2 linked regions of the Homo sapiens genome follow. The protein of the gene in region 1 interacts with the protein of each later gene in a biochemical or structural test. Each region holds a gene or a part of one and is shown in the gene's direction. Other genes may lie near its edges.

The links.
Region 2: the proteins of PLAT (region 1) and FGA form a complex in vitro, tested with the Homo sapiens proteins (2 studies listed by BioGRID).

What each region holds. Positions count from the first base shown.
Region 1 is NC_000008.11:42,203,981-42,212,415, reverse strand, and holds the start of PLAT (tissue-type plasminogen activator isoform 1 preproprotein), read left to right. Parts: upstream 1-4,850; 5' UTR 4,851-4,922; intron 4,923-8,435. UniProt on the Homo sapiens protein: Converts the abundant, but inactive, zymogen plasminogen to plasmin by hydrolyzing a single Arg-Val bond in plasminogen.
Region 2 is NC_000004.12:154,587,727-154,595,288, reverse strand, and holds the start of FGA (fibrinogen alpha chain isoform alpha precursor), read left to right. Parts: upstream 1-4,546; 5' UTR 4,547-4,601; coding exon 4,602-4,655; intron 4,656-5,726; coding exon 5,727-5,852; intron 5,853-6,312; coding exon 6,313-6,496; intron 6,497-7,562. UniProt on the Homo sapiens protein: Cleaved by the protease thrombin to yield monomers which, together with fibrinogen beta (FGB) and fibrinogen gamma (FGG), polymerize to form an insoluble fibrin matrix. Fibrin has a major function in hemostasis as one of the primary components of blood clots.

The sequences.
Region 1 (8,435 bases):
CTGCACATTCACCACGGGGGTGTATTTGAAGATTGATAGCTGGCGATGTGTTAGGAGGCTCAAAAGAGGTAGATTTAGGAGCAGAGAAAGAAAGTTCTGTGTCGGAGAATCAGCAAACCAACCTGAGAAACTCAACTCACTCCACAAAGGAATTGATTGAAAATTAGATGTGTTCAAAAATAACTTGAATAAACTCATGGATACTCCATCATAAGTTATTAAGGAAAATTCCTATTCTTCTGACACGCTTCCATGAACAACCAGGTCCTTCCAGTGCCAGAGAGAGAGTGTTGGGCTGGGCACACCCAGTGTGGAGCCAGTACATCTACTTTTATGAAAGTCATTTAGAAGCATCACTAAAGGAACTGAAAAACAATTGACCAATAATGACAGTACTCCAACACCTAGTTTTATCTTCTAATCTCTATCCATACATCTATGTAGTGTTTATATTATTATTATTTTTTGAGATGGAGTCTCACTCTTGTTGCACGATCTTGGCTCACTGCAACCTCCACCTCCCAGGTTCAAGTGATTCTCTTGCCTCAGCTTCCCGAGTAGCGGGGATTACAGGTGCCCGCCACCATGCCTGACTAATTTTTGTGTTTTTAGTAGAGATGGGGTTTCACCATGTTGGCCAGGCTGGTCTCGAACTCCTGATCTCAAGTGATTTGCCTGCCTCGGTCTCCCAAAGGGCTGGGATTATGGGTGTGAGACACCATGCCTGATCTACATTATTTATATCACAGCTCATGTACAAATTTATTTTCTTCTTCTTTTGGGCAAGGCAATTTTATGATTTATTTTGGTATGTCGGTATAATTATGTTATCAGTCATCTCAATGGCTACACAATATTGCAGTATTCTAACATGTCCTAGTCTACTAGGCCCCTATGTTTTGACATCTAAGTTATTTTCAGTATTTAGACAGTCAAAACAATGTTGAATACTTATCATTATCTTGTATGGGGATTTAAAAAATGCATGTCAGCAGGCTAAATATTCAAAAAATTACTGCTCCAAGAAAATAATCCAATTTTTAACTTAATATTTTGAAATAATTTCAAACTTACCAAAGAGTTGCAAGAATAAAGACCTCCTCCTACAGTTTGGTGAACAGCTCTTAACAAGAATAAGATTTGTAAGAGTCCTTCCCATGCCTTCAGCTTGTCCTGTTTTGATGTTTCTCATTGTTTGTGTGGAATTCACACAACTGGTGCTGTTACCACCATGGGCGTCTAGTCTGGATCAGTGGTCCTCAGTCTTTTTTGCACCAGGGACCAGTTTTGTAAAGATAGCTTTTCCACGGACAGAGGGAGGGGAGATAGTTTCGGGATGATTCAAGAGGATTACATTTATTGTGCACTTTATTTATATTACTATTACATTGTATTATATAATGAAATAATGGTATGACTCAGCATAATGTAGAATCAGTGGGAACCCTGAGCTTGTTTTCTTATAACTAGATGGTCCCATCTGGGGGTTATGGGAGACAGCGACAGATCATCAGGCATTAGATTCTTATAAGGAGTGCACAACCTCAATCCCTCGCATGTACAGTTCACAATAGGGTTTGCACTCCTATGAGAATCTAGTGCCACTGCTGATCCAACCGGAGGTGCAGCTCAGGCAGTAATGCGAGTGATGGGGAGCGGCTGTAAACACAGATGAAGCTTCACTGGCTCTCCAGCCACTCACCTCCTGCTGCGCAGCCTGGTTCCTAACAGGCCACGGACAGATACCAGCCCATGGCCCCAGGGCCGGGGATTCCCAGTCTAGATGGAGACCTAGACAAGGCGTGCGACAATAACACCGATTTTAGATCCATCATGACATTTACCCCATCCCCTGCAAAGCCAGATGGCTACCAAAATTAAATCTTAGTTTAGACACAGAATGTCCGTCTTCTGGTCCAAAACATCCTTGTCATAAGTTTCTTGGCTGGGCGCGGTGGCTCACACCTATAATCCCAGCACTTTGGGAGGCTGAGGCAGGTGGATCACGAGGTCGGGGGTTTGAGACCAGCCTGACCAACATGGTGAAACCCCGTCTCTACTAAAAATACAAAAAAATTAGCTGGGCGTGGTGGCGGGCACCTGTAATCTCAGCTACTCAGGAGGCTGAGGCAGGAGAATTGCTTGAACCTGGTGGAGGTTGCAGTGAGCCGAGATCACACCACTGCACTCTAGCCTGGGCGACAGAGCAAGACTCTGTCTCAAAAAAAAAAAAAAGAAAATAAAAAAAAAAAAAACAAGTTTCTTGCCCACTCTTCCTTTCTCTGAGTTTCCAGAGACATCACATCATTTCTTACCCAGCTGAGCAGAGTCCCAGCATGGCTCTCGTTCGAATACCCATCCTGCCACCTGCCCCAGTGAGAAGGGTTGGAGCAGCCCCTGTTCTCTGCCCCCGCCACCTCCATGACTCATGCATTCTGTGGGGGAGGCGCCCACTGCAGAAACAGCCAGGCTGGCTGGGAAAAGCCCTGCAGCAATTCCCCGTCCAGTTTCTCTGTGCCCACTTTGTCTCCGTGTTATCTAGGCCTGGATTTATTTCTCTTTTTTGAAAATGAAGGGCTTTGATGAAATGTTCACAGGATGTGAGGTCACCAAGATTTTTTTCCTTTTTTTCTGTTCTTTTCTTTTCCTCGAAGTGATCCCTTGACTAAAATCAAGGCTCCCATTGTCACCTTATCAGCCTGCCCATGCCTAATTCTGCATTCTCAGGCTTCCCCAGAATCTGTCCGAGGGAAACCAATCTCAATTCAGAAGGAACACAGAGGCCCCAGTTTCTAGGGCTGCAGGATATTGCTGGGTCTTAATCATTCGGGTATATTTCAGCAAAGCTCAGGGCCCCTGCTAATGATCTGCAAACCCTCTCCTCTCAGTCTCCCGTTGTTTAGCCCCTATTTATAAGTGAGTGCATGTGGTTGTTCACTTTCTGTTTCTGAGTTATTTCAGTTAGGATAATGGTCTCCAGTTTCATCCATGTTGCTCCAAAAGACAGACTTCATTGTTTTTTACGGCTTTGTCGTATTCCTCGGTGTATATGTGCATTTTCTTTATCCAGTCCTCCATTGATGGACACTTAGGTTAATTCTGTGCCTTTGCTATTGTGAATTGTGCTGTTGTGAATTGTGTGTGATAAACGTGTGAGTGCAGGTGTCTTTTTGATGTAATGATTTCTTTTTCTTTGAATAGATACTCAGTAGTGGGATTGCCGGGTCAAATGGATGTTCTATTTTTAGTTTGGGAAATCTCCATATTGTTTTCCATAGAGGTTCAGGATCCAGGATTTAAGTGCAACCATTCAGTGGAAAACCATCCTCTCAAGAGTTCAAATGAGAGTCCTCATGACCAGCACTCCCTGCTGAACGGCAATGCCCCACCCCCCAAAAAAGCCTCCATCCTCACCATCTTAGACCACATTGCAGGAAAGCAGCCCCATGCCCACCAGACAGGCCCACAGCTGCTGCTGCTCATGGGAGGTCTACCTCCCGTGCTCAGCAGGCAACCCACCCCAGTGCCCCTTTTCTACAATGACCATCAGCAGGGCTGCAGCTTCATAAAAATGTGAAAAACAGTTTGAAAGCAATGTGAAAAGCAGTTAGGTGCCTTTCAACTTCAAACTCAGCACTCATGGTTTGACAAATATGAGTATATTTAGGATCAGAATGTATGAAATCTGGCCTCTCCTGAATAGTCGGTCATCCCACAATTTCCTCTGCCAAACTTCTCTTCCCTCCCTGCGTTCTTTCTTTCACCTCTCTCTCATTTTTACAAGGTCTGGTCTCAGCCAGACATGAACCAATGATGATAGATGCTCCTGCTGAGCCCTGTGATGTGCCAGGGCCCTGACATGCGTGGCTTCTCTCTGATCCTCACGTGACCTGCAGATGCAAAAGCCAGAGCTCAGCATAGTTGAAAATCTTGATTGAGGTCATATCCCAGTTACTGGCACAGCCGGATTTAAACCTAAGACTTTCCCCTACACGACAGGGCTTTTATTTCTCAGTCATCTGAAAAGGTGTCAGCAAGGGAAATGGCTTGTCTATTTCCAGGGGCATTTTACAAGCAAATACTGAAAGGCTTCGGTGGGCTTAAGGGCTGATGGCTTTGATCGAATTTCAGGCATGTTGGCCCCAAGGCCCTGTGTATATTCCCTGGGCCCACTCAAGGGGATGCTGGAGCCGGAAAGTCCCCGGAGGCCACCTACTGCAGCCCTGCACTTTACAAAGAAGAGAAAGATTCTCCCTAAAATTACAGAACAGGGCCAAAGATGCCTACCGGAGCAAACCCCCATGGGGGCACCTCCTACCGCAGGTGAGCCCAAGGCTGGTCCTGCCTTCTCAGTGGCTACCCCCCTGAGCTCCCGCCACCACACAAAGTGTTCCAATCCTTGTGCATCCTCCAGTCCTTTTAACCTCTCATGTCCTGAGAGGCCAGAGCTACAGCCACAGATTCCAGAAGACACCCCACTCCCAGCCCCAACCTGCTGCCTTTAGAATTATAAACACTTCTTGTCATCACAGGGTCCTGAAAGTCCCTTTTAAGCCTGGGACACTAGGACTCTAAAGGAAGATGATTCTTAAGGTCCCATCCCACTTCCAAATTCCTGCGATTCAATGACATCACGGCTGTGAATAATCAGCCTGGCCCGAAGCCAGGATGGGCTGTGCTGCTTCCACCGTGAACTTCCTCCCCCTGCTTTATAAAAACAGGCCTGCCTCAGCTCCCTCATGGCCCTGTCCACTGAGCATCCTCCCGCCACACAGAAACCCGCCCAGCCGGGGCCACCGACCCCACCCCCTGCCTGGAAACTTAAAGGAGGCCGGAGCTGTGGGGAGCTCAGAGCTGAGATCCTACAGGAGTCCAGGGCTGGAGAGAAAACCTCTGCGAGGAAAGGGAAGGAGCAAGCCGTGGTAGGTCGGGTTTCTGTACCTTGGGGTCTGTCTCCTCTTCTTTCTCTTAAAAGTCTTTCCAGCAAGCTGAGCCAGTGAAGGAATGCTTTAACCAAGGGACCAACTTTGTAATTCAGGCAACTAGAGGATCCGCTAGAATCCACTCCAGAGGGGAGATGTCTGTTTGCATTTGCATGTGATTGGGATAGGCTGGAGTGTTTTGGAGGGGAGAGGCAGTCGGGGAAAGGGAGACTAGGGAGGTTGCATTCATTGGAGAAGCCTCTGCTGACAGAGTAAAGGGGAAAGTGAAAAGAACGATACAGAAAAGCCCCAAATAGCCTATGGGAGTACCTCAAGACGAGCAAGCAATAAAAGCAAAATCGGCTGCCTTGGGACACGTGCCTGTGACAGCTGGGAGGGCCCGCTGGGTCCCCTAGTTTCCTCCCTCCCCCGATGAACCCCCAGAAAGGAACTGAGGCTGTGGATGGGGCAGAGGGGGACTTACTTCCAGAGCACTATTTGCTAGGTGCTGGGAGAGAGAAGCAGGTGGCTTTCACACCCCACATTACCCCGTGGGATAGAGAAATGCCTCTGATCTCCCTAGGTGCCACCCCTACAAGTCTCCACAGGTCAGTTTGGCCCTCTGGCTTTTTGCCCAGGGTGCATCAGTCAAGTGTGCAGTCCTCCTTAAAGGACATTTTAATTACAGGGGAAAAAACTGACATTAATGTCTTTTATTCCTAAAGCACTCTGCAGGAAGCATGTGGGGTTCTCCAGATTTTCACTGTTATTATCTTTATTTTCTTAACCTCACAGGGAGGGAGAGAGGAAGGGAGGGAGGGAAGACGAAAACACGCCGAGGTCCCAGGTAACTAATGACAACTCAAGCTCAAAGAAGTGTGGTAACAAGGATGTGTTTGGTGGCCAATTGGGAATAATATGGTGGTCTCCTGTAGCTGCTTGATGACAGAAAAAATGTCGTGTGTGTGTGTATGCGTGTGCATTGCAGTCCCGGGAAGGGGTCTTGCAAATACCATTGTCAGGTGGAGTCCCCTCAAAGGTGACTTCCTAGCAGTACTTGCTGTGGCAAGAACGCTCATTCTGGGATCTAGACTCAATCCATGACGGTCAGCATGAGCTGCTGGGTGCGTGCTTCCTGTGCAGGCAGAGTCGGACTCCAGCACTGGCAGGGACACTGTGAGTATTGAGATATGAATAGCTCCATCCTGCCCACCCATTTATTCCACCTAAAATGTTCTCAAAGATGCAAGCCTCCAAGCTCTGGATCAAATGATAAAGCCCCAGATCAAAATCTCAGGAGCAAATGAAAGCTGCCCTTGTCTCCAAAATGCTCCTTCTCTGCCCGACTCCCCAAGACCAGCTTGGTTTATTTCACAATGACTCGCGTCGGATTCTCCCAGTGTCTGCGGCTCCCCCTGCTTCATCACAGGCCTGGGACAGTCCAGGCAGCCAGGGAATAGCTGGGAATAGCAGTTCCCCTTTGTTGGTTTTTGAGTTCACTGAGGCTTTGATTTCCCCCAGGGCCTGACGTTGCTGAGCAGAGCCAGCGGCCAGTAGATTTCAAAGGATTCCAAAAAACAGTCAGGCACTCCTTTGTGAACCCAAAAGTATCTGAGACAGGTCTGTCAATTTAGAAAGTTTATTTTGCCAATGTTAAGAACACACATGTGACACGGCCTCTGGAGATCCTGAGGACATATGTCCAAGGTGGCCAAGGTATGGCTTGGTTTCATACATTTCAGGGAGACATGAGACATTAATCAATGTATGTAAGATGTGCACCGGTTCGGTCTGGAAAGGCAGGACAACTCGAAGTAGGGGCTTCCAGGTCATAGGTAGATAAGAGAAGGCTTCATTCTTCTGAGTCTTTGTCAGCCTTTCACTGAATACACAATTTACATATGAGAGGGGGGCAGAGGAAGAGTCACTTATGCCTTAGTTGGCTCAGTGAATCTACTTTTTTTTTTGAGACGGAGTTTCACTCTTTTTGCCCAGGCTAGAGTGCAATGGCATGATCCCGGCTACTGCAACCTCCACCTCCCAGGTTCAAGTGATTCTCCTGCCTCAGCCTTCTGAGTAACTGGGATTACAGGCGCCTGCCACCACACCTGGTTAATTTTTGTATTTTTAGTAGAGACAGGGTTTCACCATGTTGGCCAGACTGGTCTTGAACTCGTGACCTCAGGTGATCCACCCACCTCGGCCCCCCGAAGTGCTGGGATTACAGGCATGAGCCAACATGCCTGGCCTGAATCTTCATTTTTACAAAAACAATAGGGCAGAGGAAGCAATCAGATATGCGTTTGTCTCAGGTGAGCAGAGGGATGACTTTGAGTTCTGTCCTTTGTCCTGTACCCATTTGCATTGCCAAGGTGAAGTTCAGCAGAACTGTTTTAGGGTAAAGATCTTGAAGTCCACAAGGAGTTTCCTTGTGGGTAAATTGTGAGAGAGGTATGTAGCCTTTTATCTTTGTAGCCGTCTTATGTAGGAATAAAATGGGAGGCAGGTTTGCCTCATGCAGTTCCCAGCTTGGCTTTTCCCTTTGGCTTAGTGATTTGGGGGTCTTGAGATTTATTTTCCTTTCATACCTTGGTAGTGTCACTTGAAGCCACCACGCCCGGCTAATTTTTATATTTTTAGTAGAGACAGGGTTTCACCATGTTGATCAGGCTGGTCTCGAACTCCTGACCTCGTGATCTGCCCTCCTCCTCCAAAGTGCTGGGATTACAGGCATGAGCCACCATGCCCGGCCAATTTTTCTTTTCTTTTTTTTTTTTTTTAAGATGGAGTCTCGCTTTTTCACCAGGCTGGGGTGCAGTGGCACAATCTTGGCTCACTGCAACCTCCACCTCCCAGGTTCAAGCGATTTTCCTGCCTCAGCCTCCCAAATAGCTTGGATTACAGGCGCCCGCCACCACACCCAGCTAAGTTTTCACCATGTTGGCCAGGCTGGTCTTGAACACCTGACCTCAAGTGATCTGCCCGCCTTGGCCTCGCAAAGTATTGGGATTACAGGCGTGAGCCACCATGCCCAGACAGGTTTTTCTTTGATTATTTGGCATTATGCACCTGCAGTCTCAGAATAAATTTTTTACTTTCTCTGAGTGATTTTCGCTTCTGCTTTGATGAGATTGTTGGGACGGACAATAAGGGACCAGTGCATTCTGCTCATTCCTTCTTGGGGCCATTTCTTTTGTATATACGGGAGAAAATGTCTGTCTATAGTGTCAGGCTATAAACCTCGTCCTAGTCAAGCAGCTCACAAAACCATATGGTGGGTCTCACATCAAACCAGGTAAAAGAGTGAGGATGATTTAGACTCAAAGAAAATTAGAGCTAGAAATAAATTTAAAGCTCATCCACCCTGCTCCAACCCTAAGTCAAGCCACATGGTCTTCCGATAGTGGCTCAGTTTTCTACTTACATAAAAAGACAGCACATTCTCTTAGCAATATGTGTTTGTATGTGTGTGTGTGTGTGTGTGTGTGTGTGTGTGTGTGTATATATATATAT
Region 2 (7,562 bases), on another chromosome or scaffold:
AATGTCAAGTTTACATAGTTTAACTTAATTCTCAGCTGCATAACGTATTTGACTTGCTTGCCAATTGTAAGCAACTTGAAGGTAAAAGACTATACATTGTTTGCCTTTTTATCTTAAGCACATAGTATGCAGGACTAGAGAAATAATATACATAGGATAAATGATTGCTAAATTTAGACAAATGAGTGAATGAGTGAGCTGCTCTCAGAAATCAATGCATTTAATTTCTGGTGTCAGCCCAGGGTAAGACAAATATTCCATTCAAAATAACACTGTTGTTTTGTTTTGTATTTTTAAGTTGTATTTATACAATTGCAAATATATAGATAACTGGTTATATATTTTACTTTTCCTGTGGAAGCTGTGATGAGTAGATATAGTTTAAAACTGAAACATATAGCTATAGAATTTCTACTCTTTCTGTATACATTATATACCACACAAATAAAGCTATTAAAACTAGTAAAAACTATTCTAGTCATGCCAAAAGTTATGGCATAACAAATGTGTAAATTCCTGCATTCAAATGTTTATATTAACATTTATATTTAAATGTTTATATTACATTAACTTCAAAAGGATAGATATATCAAACATCCTTCTCATTAGAGCTAAGGTAAATAGGATGTAGTTATCTATAGGAAAAAGACAAACCTGGTGCAGTAGCTCATGCCTGTAATCCCAGCACTTTGGGAGGCTGAAGTGGGTGGAGCACCTCAGGTCAGGAGTTCAAGACCAGCCTGGTCAACATGGGGAAACCCTATCTCTACTAAAAATACAAAAAATTAGCCAGTCATGGTGGTGGGCACCTGTAATCCCAGCTACTCAGGAGGCTGAGGCAGGAAAATCGCTTGAACCCGGGAGGCAGAGGTTGCAGTAAGCTGAGATGGCGCTGTTGCACTCCAGCCTGGGTGGCAGAGTGAGACTCCATCTCAAAAAGAAAAAGCCAATGCACGGCAGATTATAATTTAAGCAACTGAAAATTTCTTCCATCTTTTTTCCAGTTTTGCACATTTAAAGATACGCTTATTGTCACATGCTTTTTAAAAAATGATACTCGTATCATGCCTATTAATTTGCATGGTTTTCCAGCTAAACAAAACCTACTCCTCCAAAGCTTACAATACAGCCTGTTCATGGGGCAGAGAGCCCAGCCTAGTGAGCAGCCTGCAGTGTGGGGCCAAACAGTGAGCTACAGAAGTGCCTCATTAGGGACTCCTGGTACTACAGTCAAAACAAGGGAACATTTTATCATGGAGCATTGGGATATTCTAGGAACAATAAAAGCTACTGTTTCTAGAGCTCCTGCTGTGTATGGCCAACATTTTACATACACCATTTTACATAATCTTCACAGCAATCCTGTAAGACAAATATCATCATCCCATTTATAGCTCAGAGAATTTAAATAGTTTGCCCATGTCACTTAGCTGGAATCCAGGTCTCACATGCTGGAAAGCCCACCATGCATTGTCACCACCATATGGTGACAGCCTTCCATTTCTCCAGCAGATACTGAGCAGCAATTGCTCTATGCCTGACATTTGTGCCAGTCCTTGTGCCTTGGCCTCAGGAAGCTTTGTGTAGGCAAGACACAGAATAAACAAATACCTTCCCAAATGCACATTGTCCAGGAGTTATAAGGTACTGCGTGGAAAAACCAAGCAGAGTCAATGGAATGACATGCGAGAGTGGCAGCTCTTTAGATCAGGTGGCCAGAGAAGGCCTCTCTGAGTAGATGCCATGTGAGCAGAGGCCAGGAGTAAGAAAGGGTGTGAGATGTGCTGATTCTGAGAGGCAAGGATAAAGCCCTCAGGTGGCATCCTTGGAAACACCCTGACATGGCACTAGGGTGGTGGCATTCAACCAAATTGTTTTCTGTTAATTTACCTTCAATCAGATTATGTTCAGCCGACTCACCTAAGGCCTACCAGGTTACTCTCGGGAACTTCTTTGCTATATACCATGTTCACCTCCCAAAGGGGCACTTCTTGTGGGCATAGGAAAATGTGTGCAGAGATCAAGCCTCACCTTCCTATCTAATCCTGACATTTTGCCAGTGCAGTCATTGTGAGTGAGTGTAACCCAGCTTTTCATGGAATCATTGCCCTCTGGAACCTGGATGGGGCTCTGGGGCTTCCTCTTTGCTCTGCAGTTAACTCTAAAATCATAGCAAGCTGCTTCAGGGGTGAGCTTGATCAGACAAGGAGTCTTCCATAGAGCAGACAGTGCACTGCCTTGCACCAGGGCTTCCATCCATTTATAGAAAGCTTCACACGTCTGCAGTGCTGGGGGAGGCAGCCAGGCAACTTCGCATCTCTGGAACCCACTTATGCTTTCTTGCTCAATGAGGGCCCACACCTTTTGGGGAGAATATAAAGACCAATAAAACATTTCAATTCTCAAGTTTATGATCTAGTGGAGGAGACAGACGGTACTCCTATAATGATAAATGCCATTAGTGGTGCACAGTCTAAGGAAGTATGAAAGAACATGAGATTCCTTTTAATTGGACATTGAATCAGGTACCCTGCAAAATGTCTAGCAAAGAACCCAAGACTTAGTAAACATTCAATACACATTAGCTATTACTCTATTAGGATTGGCTTCATGTAGGAAGCAGAATTTGAGGCAAGGTAGGATTGCCAGATAAAGTACAGGATGTCCAGTAAAGTTTGAATTTCAGATGAACAACAAAAAAATTTTAAGTGTGTCTCAAATATCACATGAGACATACTTATACTCAAATAGATTTGTTGTTTATCTGAAATTCAAATTTAACTGGGACACTCTTATTTTTATTTGCTATTTCCGCCAACCTAATACATCTGGTAAATGTAAGCTGAAGATGTTTTTTACCTTTATTGAAGTATAATTGACAAATAAAAATTGCATAATTTAGGTTGTACAGCTGGATGTTTGTTTTTTTATTTTCCTTTAAAGGGGAACTTCTCTCTGATTGGTGTTTTGATACACATAAACATTGTGAAATGATTACCACTATTAATCTAATTAGCACTTAAAACACCTCATATAGTTATCTTTTTGTGTGGTGAGAAGACTTAAGATCTACCTTTTTAGCAAATTTCAAATATACAGCATAATATTATCAACTATAGTCACCATGCTGCACATTGGACTCCAGAACTTATTTATATTGCATAGCTCAAACTTTGTGCCCTCTAACCAACATCTCCCCCATTTCTCCTATGCCTCAGGCCCTGGCCACCACCATTCTACACTTTTCTTCCGTGAGTTTGACTATTTTAGATTTCACATGTAAGAAAGATCATACAGTATTTGTCTTTCTTTTCCGTTTTTTTTTTTTTTTTTGAGAAGGAGTCTCACTCTGTGGCCCAGGCTGGAGTGCAATGATGCAATCTCGGCTCACTGCAACCTCCTCCACCTCCCGCGTTCAAGTGATTCTCCCTGCCTCAGCCTCCTGAGTAGCTGGGATTACAGGTGCCTGTCACCACGACCAGCTAAGCAGTATTTGTCTGTCTATATCTGCTCATTTCACTTAGGATAATGCCCTCTAGGTTCATCAATGTTACTGCAAATGACAGAATTTCCTTCTTTTTCAAGGCTGAGTAATACTCCATTGTGTATATATATATATACACATTTTCTTTATCTACTCATCCATCAGTGGAAACAGGTTGTTTTCATATCTCGGCTATTGTCAATATAGCTACAATGAACATGGGAATGCAGGTGTCTCTTCAAGATCCTGATTTCATTTCCTTTGGAAATACACTCAGAAATGAGATTGCTAGCACAGAAACAGGAAATAAATGGTATTTTTCATGGCACTTTATGATCTCCCATAATTCACTGAGTATTTCCTATGTGACAGTCACTGTTCTGAGAGATTTACAAGAATTAACTCATTTATTCTTCATAAAAGCATGGGGTAGCTTATCAGCATCCTTATTTTATAAATGAGGAAACTGAAGTATAAAGAGGTAAAGTAACTTGTCCAAGAACATAGAGCAGGGAAGTGGTGCAGCTTGGATTATGAACCCAAGATGTTTTGTTCCTGGGGCTGCTGTCATCTTAATATTTTAAATAGAGAAAAGTAATATGTTCTAAATAAACTTATAGAAAGCCTTCAGGGCCAGCTTATCCCCAAAGTTATTTTTTTTATAAGCCAGATCACCCAACCCTAATTTCTGCATAAAGTGAAATATTGTTTGCTAAATCACTACTACTGGGGGCTACAGCTAGCTTACCTAAGCACCTTCTATATTCTTTCACGTTTAGAAATATGGATATACCCTCCTATGCTCCTCTTTTCATTCTCAAAGCCACCCTGTTCCTGGAATGTGAGATCTCCTAATTGTTGACTGGAGAATCAAATGCTACCTTTGCAACAGCTTATCGGAAGCAAACAAGCTGAGGGGAATTGAGCAAGAATTTCTGGGATACCAACAGCATAGGAGGAACAAAGGACGTAGAGGGAGGGTTGACTGTCTACACAGGACAAAGCCAATGATTAACCAAACCTCTTGCAGATTTAAATAGGATGGGAACTAGGAGTGGCAGCAATCCTTTCTTTCAGCTGGAGTGCTCCTCAGGAGCCAGCCCCACCCTTAGAAAAGATGTTTTCCATGAGGATCGTCTGCCTGGTCCTAAGTGTGGTGGGCACAGCATGGGTATGGCCCTTTTCATTTTTTCTTCTTGCTTTCTCTCTGGTGTTTATTCCACAAAGAGCCTGGAGGTCAGAGTCTACCTGCTCTATGTCCTGACACACTCTTAGCTTTATGACCCCAGGCCTGGGAGGAAATTTCCTGGGTGGGCTTGACACCTCAAGAATACAGGGTAATATGACACCAAGAGGAAGATCTTAGATGGATGAGAGTGTACAAACTCACAAGGGAAACTTTAGCATCTGTCATTCAGTCTTACCACATTTTGTTTTGTTTTGTTTTAAAAAGGGCAAGAATTATTTGCCATCCTTGTACCTATAAAGCCTTGGTGCATTATAATGCTAGTTAATGGAATAAAACATTTTATGGTAAGATTTGTTTTCTTTAGTTATTAATTTCTTGCTACTTGTCCATAATAAGCAGAACTTTTAGTGTTAGTACAGTTTTGCTGAAAGGTTATTGTTGTGTTTGTCAAGACAGAAGAAAAAGCAAACGAATTATCTTTGGAAATATCTTTGCAGTATCAGAAGAGATTAGTTAGTAAGGCAATACGCTTTTCCGCAGTAATGGTATTCTTTTAAATTATGAATCCATCTCTAAAGGTTACATAGAAACTTGAAGGAGAGAGGAACATTCAGTTAAGATAGTCTAGGTTTTTCTACTGAAGCAGCAATTACAGGAGAAAGAGCTCTACAGTAGTTTTCAACTTTCTGTCTGCAGTCATTAGTAAAAATGAAAAGGTAAAATTTAACTGATTTTATAGATTCAAATAATTTTCCTTTTAGGATGGATTCTTTAAAACTCCTAATATTTATCAAATGCTTATTTAAGTGTCACACACAGTTAAGAAATTTGTACACCTTGTCTCCTTTAATTCTCATAACAACTCCATAAAATGGGTCCTAGGATTTCCATTTGAAGATAAGAAACCTGAAGCTTGCCGAAGCCCTGTGTCTGCTCTCCTTAATCTCTGTGAGAGTGCCATCTCTTCCTGGGGACTTGTAGGCATGCCACTGTCTCCTCTTCTGGCTAACATTGCTGTTGCTCTCTTTTGTGTATGTGAATGAATCTTTAAAGACTGCAGATAGTGGTGAAGGTGACTTTCTAGCTGAAGGAGGAGGCGTGCGTGGCCCAAGGGTTGTGGAAAGACATCAATCTGCCTGCAAAGATTCAGACTGGCCCTTCTGCTCTGATGAAGACTGGGTAAGCAGTCAGCGGGGGAAGCAGGAGATTCCTTCCCTCTGATGCTAGAGGGGCTCACAGGCTGACCTGATTGGTCCCAGAAACTTTTTTAAATAGAAAATAATTGAATAGTTACCTACATAGCAAATAAAGAAAAGGAACCTACTCCCAAGAGCACTGTTTATTTACCTCCCCAACTCTGGATCATTAGTGGGTGAACAGACAGGATTTCAGTTGCATGCTCAGGCAAAACCAGGCTCCTGAGTATTGTGGCCTCAATTTCCTGGCACCTAATTTATGGCTAAGTGGACCCTCATTCCAGAGTTTCTCTGCGACCTCTAACTAGTCCTCTTACCTACTTTTAAGCCAACTTATCTGGAAGAGATAGGGTAGGAAGAAATGGGGGCTGCATGGAAACATGCAAAATTATTCTGAATCTGAGAGATAGATCCTTACTGTAATTTTCTCCCTTCACTTTCAGAACTACAAATGCCCTTCTGGCTGCAGGATGAAAGGGTTGATTGATGAAGTCAATCAAGATTTTACAAACAGAATAAATAAGCTCAAAAATTCACTATTTGAATATCAGAAGAACAATAAGGATTCTCATTCGTTGACCACTAATATAATGGAAATTTTGAGAGGCGATTTTTCCTCAGCCAATAGTAAGTATTACATATTTACTGCTTTGACTTTATAACAGAAACAACAAAAATCCTAAATAAATATGATATCCGCTTATATCTATGACAATTTCATCCCAAAGTACTTAGTGTAGAAACACATACCTTCATAATATCCCTGAAAATTTTAAGAGGGAGCTTTTGTTTTCGTTATTTTTTCAAAGTAAAAGATGTTAACTGAGATTGTTTAAGGTCACAAAATAAGTCAGAATTTTGGATTAAAAACAAGAATTTAAATGTGTTCTTTTCAACAGTATATACTGAAAGTAGGATGGGTCAGACTCTTTGAGTTGATATTTTTGTTTCTGCTTTGTAAAGGTGAAAACTGAGAGGTCAAGGAACTTGTTCAAAGACACAGAGCTGGGAATTCAACTCCCAGACTCCACTGAGCTGATTAGGTAGATTTTTAAATTTAAAATATAGGGTCAAGCTACGTCATTCTCACAGTCTACTCATTAGGGTTAGGAAACATTGCATTCACTCTGGGCATGGACAGCGAGTCTAGGGAGTCCTCAGTTTCTCAAGTTTTGCTTTGCCTTTTTACACCTTCACAAACACTTGACATTTAAAATCAGTGATGCAACACTAGCTGGCAAGTGAGTGATCCTGTTGACCCAAAACAGCTTAGGAACCATTTCAAATCTATAGATTAAAAAGAAAAGCTCATCAGTAAGAAAATCCAATATGTTCAAGTCCCTTGATTAAGGATGTTATAAAATAATTGAAATGCAATCAAACCAACTATTTTAACTCCAAATTACACCTTTAAAATTCCAAAGAAAGTTCTTCTTCTATATTTCTTTGGGATTACTAATTGCTATTAGGACATCTTAACTGGCATTCATGGAAGGCTGCAGGGCATAACATTATCCAAAAGTCAAATGCCCCATAGGTTTTGAACTCACAGATTAAACTGTAACCAAAATAAAATTAGGCATATTTACAAGCTAGTTTCTTTCTTTCTTTTTTCTCTTTCTTTCTTTCTTTCTTTCTTTCTTTCTTTCTTTCTTTCTTTCTTTCTTTCTTTCTCCTTCCTTCCTTTCTTCCT